2 separate regions of the Homo sapiens genome follow, and region 2 is linked to region 1. The links come from fine-mapping of genetic effects on gene expression. A gene starts in region 1. The other region holds a variant in brackets. All regions are shown on one strand. Distances are between the middles of the regions.

Region 1 (5,379 bases):
TTATTCAAGTCACTCTTTCAAAAATATACACAAATAAAGGACTAACCTCTTTCAAATAAACAAAACTTGCTCAAGCCACTGTCACTATATTCTGGCACAGGATAAATTTACATTTCACATTTGCAAAACAAGTTGTGGTATGCTGTTGTTTTGGTTAGAAACACAGGAATCAATGATTCTCAATAACCAGAAGCAGATTACTTTATATGAAACAGCACGATTCAAAGAAAAACATTTTTCAAATGTTTTCTCCAGGTTTTACCTGGAGAGCTAGATGTCTGGGGTTTGTGTCTTTCTGTGCTTGTTTAATTCTAAAAACAACCTCCCTTCAACTCCTTTCAAAAATCAGTATTTTCTTCAATTAATACGAGCATATAGTGTACAATAAAACGCATAAAGATATGTACTTCCAGAATGCCATAATAATCCAAATAGAAAAAAATTCGTGTTTTAATTTTCCACATAGCAAAGTCAATGTTAATCATTTTTTTATCCTTCTCCTTAACCATTCCACAAATCAGAAGCACTGTATTTATATATTTAATAAGATTAACAAACTGACTAGAAGCTCCGGAGGAGTAAAGGAAGAAATCATTTGTATAATATATTTTTCCATAACAAAAAGATAAAAGCAAATAGGACTTGTTAAATGAGAAGCTTTTGAAAAACCCAGCGTGACCAGCTTTTGATTTACCCCAGTCTGACAAGGAAGAGAGACCCCACCCCCACTCCAGATTGTATGGCTTTTTTTTTTTTTTTCCTTGGGTGGGGGTGTGGAGGAGAAGCTGTCACATTTCCATCTTCGGTTATTGTTAGTCCGCAGCCTAGATTCCCAAGCATCACCGGTCCAGGGGAAAAATCCTAACGCAGACAATTAAAACTGTCTGAAACATGCAGTATTTTGTTGGGGCTTTTTTCCCAGTGTTAATTTCATCGAGACTCAATCGGCTAGGGCTATAGATTGCCTCTGACAGTCTGTCCCTCAAACGCTCCCTCTAAAACCGCTTGTTCCAGATTTACTAACAATCCTCTCCTCTCCAAACTTAAATTAGGACAACACATTTCTGAAATTATTACATCCAAAAAGTCATACCTCCCCATTCTCTTTGCCTTGGTGTGGGGAATAGAAAGAGTGAAGAAGAGAGATCTATTCACTCTTCAAACAAAAAGAAATTGGGGTAGAGGGTCAGTGGAGGAAAGAGCAGTGGTGGACCTGAGTGAAAGGTTGAAAAAAGTTTTTGTGACTTGTTCGTCCTTCGGCAGGGGTACAGGAGTTGGGCAGAAGGCCGGGGTCTCGGCCCCAGGGCTCGGGCCGAGAAGAGGCACCCGCGGAAGAGGAGGCTGAGGACCCGAGAACGCCTGGACGAGCACATACCGACTTGCAGCACGTTCTCCACGGAGCCGCTGTCCAGCAGACGGATGCCCCGGCGGAACGGGAGCCCCTCGCCACCGCAGCCGGCCGCGCCGGCCCCTGCGCCCAGCCCGGGGGATGCCCCAGCCGCGACGCCCCCGGGGGCGGAGCCGGCCGGAGCGGCGGCCCCGGGGGGTGGCTGCGGCCCCTCCTCGGCCGGCGAAGCCCCCGCGGCGCCGCCAGCAGCGCCGGCGCCGGGGCCGCCCCGGTACTGGAAGCTGGAGTACATGCAGATCTCCCGCTCATTCCGCGGGAAGGACCAGTAGACGATGCGGCGCTGCACGGGCTCCGGGATCCGCTCGAAGCGCTCCTCCACCCGTTCGTATGCCCACTTTTCCGCCACCGTCTTGGCGGCGCAGTCCAGTAAGGAATCCGGCTGCAGGTGGGGGCGGGCCCCGAGGACCAGGCAGCTGCTGCCGACGCCCCCTGCCCCTCCGCCGGCTGCCCCAGGCGAACCGCGAGGGTGATGAGCCTGCGGGCTGGGCCACGAACACTGCCGCTTAGCCGGAGAGACCGGTGACGGCGAGAGCAGCTCCTCTCGCTCACCTCCGTCCGCCATTGCTGGGGACTGACTGACTGACTGAGGCGGCGGCGGCTGCTCGGGCTGCGGCGGAGACCCTGGCCACGGCCACGCGCCCCGCGCAAGCGCCCAGCGGTGGCGCCGAGGGGGGCGGGGCGAGAGAACCCGCGAGCCAGCCGGCCCGAGTGGGGAACCGCGGCCGGGCCCGGGAGCGCGCCGCGAGGGCAGACGCGGGCGGCCTGCAGGGTAGCGTGAGGCGGCGCGCGGTGTCCTGGCCGCCGCGGACGCGAAGACAGGCGGGAGCGAGCGCGGGCCCGCGGCGCGCTCCAGGCGCAAACAGCCTAGAACGCGAGCCGAGCGCTCTCGCGGATCCGGCGACCGCGGAGGGGAGAGGAGCGCCGGACGCTCTCGCACGCCCGCCCGCCCGCCCGCGCACCTCCAACCCACCTGCCGCCGGCCAGACAGGAATGGACTGTGTGACTGAATGAAATGGCGGGGCCATAAGCCATCCAAGGAGCCGCCTCCGTGAAGTTATAGGCTCGCGGGGTACAAGGAGAAAAAAACAATCCAGCTCCAACGGTACTGATGTGACAGGAGGTTGTCACAGCAGAGCGGAAGATCTGGCAGAAAGACGCTGGGAAAGAAGACACTAGGGGAAAACATCAGAAAGTTCGGATGATGAAAACTCACCTCACGCCACAACAATGTAGGATAAAGCCGGCGGTCACCCCACCCCAGAGTGGGACAAAGTCGCACCACCCCTTGACAATGGGGCATCAAGATCTTATCGCCACGGGGGTTGCATCCTGGTGGGGTCTTTTGGAGGGTTTAGCACCTTGCATCCTAGAATACAAAACACTTTTGCGTGTTTTTTGGTAGAATTCTCTGATCCCCTACCTCCAATCTGAATTAGGTCTTTCATGTTTTCCTCACTTGGCTCAGTCTTCTACACCTTTACATAGTTGTATTTTTATATATTTGTTTAATGTCTGACTGTCAACTCCATGAGAGTGAGAATCATGTCTATTTCCTTCACTATAATTTATCCTCTGCCTGGCACATAGTGGGTGCTCAAGAATGGCAGCTTCATCACTAACTCCATAAACAACACGCAATTGTAAGTTACTGTTTCTTGCTCGATCAAGAAAGCTCAGATTATTTCAGAATTTGCTGACAAACTAATCTCTACAACTTTAAAACGTTCCAAGAACTGTATTAAAAGAGTTTCTATAGTTGAGTTTGCCCTTCAAAGTAAGAGAGATTTAGAGTGTAGGATAAAATAAGAGTAAGAAGAGAGTAAATGATTGGAGACAGGCTGGAGCCACAGTTTGGTTTTGCTGTAATCTCAGAATTAAAGAGCACAGGCAGAATTGGGTGTGAATCACACTTGCTGTGTGTGATGCTATTCATGATTCTATTAAATCATTTGCAAAAGGGAGCTAGTAATAATGCTTCTACACATAAATGTTGTAAGAATTAGAAATAATTCACTTTAAAAAAAGTTTTTTTAGAGACAGGATCTCACTCTGATGTCCAGCCCGGAGTGCAGTGGGGTGATCACTGCAACCTCAAACTCTTGGACTCAAACTATCCTTCCATCTCAGCCTCCAGAATAACTAGGACAACAGATGCACAGCACCACACCCAGCTAATTCTAAATTTTTGTAGAGGGGCGGTCTCCCTATGTTGCCCAGGCTGGCTGGAATTAGAAGTAATTCAAATTGTTTGCTTATTCAGTGTAGTAGGTACTCAATAAGTATCTGTTTAGGCCAGATGCAGTGGCGCATGCCTGTAATCCCAAGGCTTTGGGAGGCCAAAGTGGAGGATCCCTTGAGGCCAGGAGTTCTAGACCAGCCTGGGCAACAGAGCAGACTGGAGACCCCATCTCTACACAAGAAATAAAAAATAGCAGGGATTAGTGGCCTACACCCTGTAGTCCTAGCTACCCTGAAGGCTGATGTAGGAGGATTGATTGAGCCCAGGAGTTCAAGGTTACAGTAAGCTATGATCATGCCACTGCACTCTAGCCCAGGCAACAGAGCAAGACCCTCTCTAAAAAAACAAAAAAAGAAAGAAAAAGAAATCTGTTTATATTGGTAAATGGATTTATATCTGTAAATAACTATAAATAGATTACTGCAAAATAGCATAATCCCTACTCCACCTTGAATCTGGTACCACATTTACAGGCTTCCATAACACACACTATTTTCTTTCCTATAATTTATCAGAGTTTTTTGGGAGAACGAATATTCCTTTAATGCCTGTCCCCCTAACTAGACTATGAGCTGTGGAAGGGCAGGAACCATTTCCATGTAAGGGCCTATTTCTACCACCTGCCAAAATGCCTACACATAGAAGATGTTCAGAAAATATTTGCACTTTGAATCAATGAATATGTTATTCTGATTTAATCAGTTACTGTCTTTTTTTTTTTTTTTTTTTTTTTTGAGATGCAGTCTCACTCTGTCACACCCAGGTTGGAGTGCAGTGGCACAATCTTGGCTCACTGCAACTTCCGCCTCCTGGGTTCAAGTGATTCTCTTGCCTCAGCCTCCCAAGTAGCTGGGTCTACAGGCGTGTATGCCACCATGCCCAGCTAATTTTTGTATTTTTAGTAGAGATGGGGTTTTACCACATTGACCAGGCTGGTCTCAAACTCCGGCTTCAAGTGATCTGCCCGCTTCAGCCTCCCAAAGTGCTGGGATTACAAGTGTGAGCCATGGCGCCTAGCCTATATTTATGTGTTTATTTGCTTAATGTCTGTTTCCCAAAATAGACTATAAGCTCCATGTTAGGCGGGCGTGGTGGCTCACACCTGTAATTCCAACACTTTGGGAGGCTGAGGTGGGTGGATCACTTGAGGCCAGGAGTTCGAGACAAGCCTGGTCAACATGGTGAAACTCCACCTCTACCAAAAATACAAAAATTAGCTGGGCATGATGGTGGGCATCTGTAATCCCAGCTACTCGGGAGGCTGAGGCAGGAGAATTGCTTGAACCTAGGAGGCGGAGTTGCACTGAGCCGAGATTATACCACTGCCAGCCTGGGAGACAGAGTGAGACTGTGTCTCAAAAACATAAATAAAAAATAAAAAATAAGCACATAAATATATAAATACAGATGGTAATAACACAGCAAATAAGACATTTGGGAATATGCAATATGTGGTTGTGAATAACAAGAATGCTAGATTAATTGGACCATAAGTTTGTGGTGAGAAATAGTGGGAAAAGACTGCAAGAGAGACAGGAGACATTGTGAAAAGCTTTTAAAAGCATTGTAAAATGCTAACTTGAGGAATCTGCATTTTCTTAGGTTGGTGGAGGGAAGCTAATAAAGGTATTTTGAGCAGGACAGTTATATGATAAAAGGCAGTGTTTTAGGAATATTAACCAGACAGAAATATGTAGGATGAATCAGGAGAAAGATAAAGTCTGGAGGCAAA
Region 2 (5,379 bases), 32 kb before region 1:
GCTGAAAAAGTGCTAATTTATATTTTTGAACTGTTTTATTTTGCAACATGATAATGAATGGCTGTTGTAATTGGTAGTTCTGCAGCAAACAAGCTACATAAGACCTTAGACAAGACAATAACATCAACAATACAGAGCTTTATATTTTAATAGGTGCCTCAGATACACTACCTCTTGCAGCTGAACTCTTTGGGGAAAAATATCCTCCCCCAAAAGGAACTACAAAGATTGCTATATATCTTTTTCTCCCACAGCATGTCCTTGTAGTCTTATCTGGACCTACAGGATCACAGTTTAGAGCAGTTAAACAAAGGAATCATATATTTAGTTTATAATTATTATGCAAATCATTCTTAAAATCACTCTTCAGAATGTTGTGCCTCTTTTCTTCCTTTGTTAAAACTTACTGCTGCTAGGCATTGTGCTCATGCCTATAATCCCAATGCTTTCGGAAGCCAAGGTGGGAAGATTGCTTAAGACCAGGAATTCGAGACCAGCCTGGGAAACACAGTGAGACCCAGTCTCTACAAAAAATAAAAAAAATTAGCCGGGCATGGTGGTGTGTGCCTGTGGTCCCAACTTCTTGGGAGGCTGAGGCAGGAGGATTGCTTAAGCCCAAGAGTTCAAGGCTGCAGTACACTATGATCATACCACTGTACTCCAGCCTGGGTGACATAGCAAGACCTTGTCTCAAAAATTATAATCATCACCAATTTAAACAATTTGGTACTACTAGAGGAAACGTTACTTTTGCATGAATACATAATAGGTCCACAACATATGAACTGAATATATTAGTCTCAATAACGGAGCTACTGCTCTGGTACAGCACCAACTAAATAATTTCTCTTTAAGTCTGTACATTAAAAGTGTGATATTACATAAAAGGCAAGAATGGATGTTACTAAGGCAATAAATATTAGTGTCACACACCAAATACAAAACCTATGTCTGAATTTTCTTATAGACAGAAAAGGAAACAATTTCAGTATATAATTCCTAAATTTAACTGAGTTTTTTTCATTCTTTTCAATCTCTATAGGACTTAAGTTATCCATGCATTTTTCACTGTGCATAACTGAACAGTGATTAAGATTTTGAACACAGGAGCCGGGCTCTAACCCCAGCTGCCCCACATAACTATATAAATTTGGACTAGTTTCTTATCAGGGCCTCATTTCCTCATATGTAAAATTGGGATAATAATAGTACATACCTCAAAAGAATATTATATGGATTACATAAATTATAACATGTTAAATATTTGGCAAAGCGCCCAGCACTTTGTGTTAGCTTTTAATATTGTTATTATTGTTATGCAAATAAAAAGTGAAACTATATTAAGTGGCAATATTTACACAGCTTTAAAAGACTGTAAATTTATATAACCAATAAAGACATAATTGCTTAAAAAACTTTAGCTTATAATCTGAGTAGGAACCAAATATCATTTAAAATGAAATTAGATGAGTTACGTATGTTTGTACTGATTATAATTTAACCTTTAAAATGAACATGAAGGCTGGGTGCAGTGGCTCACGACTGTAATGCCAGCACTTTGGGAGGCCAAGGTGGGTGGATCACTTGAGGTCAGGAATTTGAGACCAGCCTGGCCAACAAGGTAAAACCCCATTTCTACAAAAAATATAAAAATTAGCCAAGTATGGTGTCATACACCTGTATTCCCAGCTACTCAGGAGGCTGAGGCAGGAGAATTGCTTGAACCCGGAGACAGAGGTTGCAGTGAGCCAAGATCAGGCCACTGCATTCCAGCCTGGGTGAGAAAGCGAGACCTTGTCTCAAAAAAACAAAACAAAATATGAAATAAAACTAAAACATTCAAAAGTGATCTTTTAATAAAAATAATTGGAGATTTTTAATGTAAGCTAAGAAAAACATATTCTCTTAAACAATTCAAAATAAATAGGTAATTGGAGGAGTACTCACTATTAATCAAAGTTCATTCAAGTTCATTATCAGCTCAGTGAGGTGGCTCACACCTGTAATCCCAGGACTTTGGGAAGCCGAGGTGGGCGGATCACTTTAGGCCAGGAGTTTGAGACCTGCCTGGCCAACATGGTGAAACCCCAACTCTAC[T/TA]AAAAAAAAAAAAAAAAAAATTAGCTGGGCATGACACACCCAATACAAAATACTCTCCTACTCGGGGAGCTGGGACAGGAGAATTGCTTGAACCTGCAAGGTGGAGTTTGCAGTGAGCTGAGATCGCGCCACTGCACTACAGCCTGGGCCACAGAGCAAGATTCTGTCTCAAAAAAAAGAAAAAGATTATCATATTTATCCCTTTTTATTTTGAAACAATCTCAAACTTACAGAAAAGTTGCAAGTACAGTTCAAATAATTTTTAAATGAGTTATTGGAGAGTAAGTTGTCAACGTACTGCCTTATCACCCCAGAATACTTTTTTTGTGTATTTCCTTCAAAGATATTCTCCTACAGAACTATAAAAATCATGAAAATCAGAAATCAATACCATAACATTATCATATAATGCACAGGCCCCATTCAACTGTTGCCAATTGCCCCAAAAATGTCCCCATAAGGATCCAGTCCAAAGTCATACAATGCATTTAGTTTTTATGTCTCCTTATTCTCCTTCAATCTGGAACCACCTGTAGTCTTAACTTTCTGACTTCTGATACTTACGAAGACTTCAGGCTAGCTATTTTGAAGAATGTCCCTCAGTAGTGCCTGTTATTTCATCATGATTAGATTCAGGTTATCTATCTTTGGCAGTAATATCATAGAAGTGGAGCCATGTTCTTATTGTTTCCTATCAAATGGCACACAATTTTGATTTCTCCCATCACTGGTGAGGTTAACTTTGCTCATTTGATCACAGTAGTGTTTGCCTGGATTCCTCACTTTAAAGTTACCTTTTTCCCCTTATAATTAAAGTATCTCATGGGAACCATATTGACATTATGCCAATATACTCATCAAATTTTCAACTTACTCTTTCTAAAAATATTTTATTTTGGAGACAGGGTTTCATTCTGTCGCCCAAGCTGCAGTGCAGTGGAGCAATCCCAGCTCACTGCAGCCTTAACCTTCTGGGCCCAAGCGATCCTCCCACCTCAGCCTCCTAAAGTAGCTGAGACCACAGGCATGCACCACCATGCCCGGCTAATTTTTTAAAATTTTTGTAGAGACGGTGTTTTGCCATGTTGCCCAGGCTGGTCTCAAACTCCTGGGCTCATGTGATCTTCCCTCCTCAGCCTCCCGAAGTGCTGGGATTATAGGCATGAACCATGGCACCTGGCCTTTAAAAAAAAAAAACCATTGACACAATGAACTCATGGGTTTCTATTTCATTCAATGGGTTGGTTATATCCATTATTATCATTATTTTGACACTCAATTCATCCCATATTTGGCTAATGGGAATCTCTTCAAAGCTGGCTTTTGTATCCTTTTTGATGTGTTGCTATAATTCTTTAAGAACCTCCCTGCTTTCTGGCACAAGAACATGTTCAAGGCTCATTTGATACTTTCTCTGCCTCACCCCTAAATTCAGCCATTTCTCCAAGGAGGCTTTGTTCCTTTTATCGGAGAAAAGTACTTGGAAACCAAGATATGGGCATTAGGTGTGCTTATTGCTATTGGGATATTACTGCTCTAAGGCCCTCTCAGTTAACTGAATGCCATATATATATATAATATATATTATATATATATTCCAATATATACTAAAAACCATGAGTTCACGTGGGTATCTCCAATTACAATCCAAAACCCAGAGTTCATTCACCTTTTCTCCCTGGTCTTTATCTTTTCTTATCTTATTTTATTTTTCAGACGGAGTCTTGCTTGTTGCCCAGGCTGGAGTGCTATGGCACAATCTTGGCTCACTGCCACCCCCACCTCCTGGGTTCAAGCGATTCTCCTGCCTCAGTCTCCTGAGTAGCTGAGACTACAGGTGCATGCCACCACACCGAGCTAATTTTTCTATTTTTTAGTAGAGACGGGGTTTCGTCATGTTGGCCAGGCTGGTCTTGAACTCATGACCTCAGGTGATCCACCCGCCTTGGCCTCCCAAAGTGTTGGGATTACAGGCATGAGCCACCGCGCCCGGCCTGGTCTACATTTTAGCTACTTTTTCTGATAGTGAGAAATTTGGCTCCTGTTATCCTTAATTGATTTACTTAGTTGATCAATATCTATAAATAACCAATCTTTCATTGCCACCACAGCTCCTCCCTGCCAATAAGGACATTCTTCTCACTGTGCTCAAGCTCAAAAAACCTGCACCTACTGCTGCCACCCCCTGCTATGCCCACTTCACCCCATCTGAACACTAACACCCTATGGCTCTACACTCCCCTTCACCCCTATACAAAAGTCATCCTCAACCCTTTCAGACTCTGACATCTCAAATTATATCCCCCTTCATGTGGATACCCTCCTCACCCCACTTTGGCTCTAGCACCCCATGCTAGGCCACTGCTCCAGTTGGGCTCCAATATACCCTTTCAGGCCACTGCTACTATCCCTTCTTCCCATCTCACTTCCTTTTCTCTTGCTTCTCCCAGGTTTGGACTAAAGTTTTCAGGAAGGGAAGTCAGAAGAAAAGGGAATGATTAAGGATTCAGGAACTAGAGAGAGGAGGGAAGAGAAGAGCAGTATCATTGTATGACACCTCATAATTAGCTATTTTGCTATACAGTGATTATGTTTCTAAAACGTATGCAGAAAATAAGGAATAAACACTAAAGAAAATAATAGGAAAGAAGAAAAGAATATGACACTGAAAAAGAAAAAAATTTCTTAAATGTACTGAATGCTTGTTCTTATTTATTTTACACTTCCAATCATTAAGAGTTGTTATAGACTCTAACAAGGCTATGAACTATGGCCAACCCCCTTTTCCACATTGGAACTGAAAAACCTACACCATATACACAGGGAATTTAAGGTACTTAAGTTTGCAGGTTATACAGAGTGGTAACAGCAATAGAGCAATTTCTACAATTCCTACAACCCAAACTGTGAAATCAATAATGGTGAAAGTTACAGAGGGGTATGCAAAATATACCTTTAATAGCAAAATATTTCCCAGGTCTGAATCTCATGAAATGAAAGATGGGCATAAAAGGGGATTCTCTCTGCTGCTTTATAAGACAATTCGGGGAGATTGAGCAATCAGTTGCTACTTGATACCAAGCAGTAACCAGCTCTATGACACATCCTTATGTTGCCTTACCCTCCTTCCCTGTCTCATTTCATTTTCTCTCACTCTTGCTTCCCTGGGATCATATTCTTTAATAACACAATAGCACATTAAAAAGCATTTCCCAGTCTAATGCAAGCAGAAAAATCCCTTAATACAATGCATTCTATGGCACAAACAACACTGAGTTTTGT

Evidence for each region. PIP is the estimated chance that this variant, and not a neighbour inherited with it, causes the effect.
Region 2: its variant is fine-mapped to the expression of ZSWIM5 in whole blood (INTERVAL, PIP 0.97).

Annotation. Positions count from the first base shown.
Region 1 is chr1:45,204,381-45,209,759 of GRCh38, forward strand. ZSWIM5 (zinc finger SWIM-type containing 5) reads right to left here and starts at 2,225. Exons shown (of 14, transcript NM_020883.2): 1 at 1,376-2,225. The coding sequence starts at 1,970. RefSeq lists enhancers at 803-1,703, 1,704-2,603 and silencers at 1,672-1,831, 2,032-2,451.
Region 2 is chr1:45,172,473-45,177,851 of GRCh38, forward strand. The region is part of intron 1 of ZSWIM5 (zinc finger SWIM-type containing 5); the gene reads right to left. Among named protein-coding and RNA genes, the nearest start is that of ZSWIM5, 31 kb to the right of the region's middle. The variant T/TA (reference allele first, on the strand shown) is at 2,098.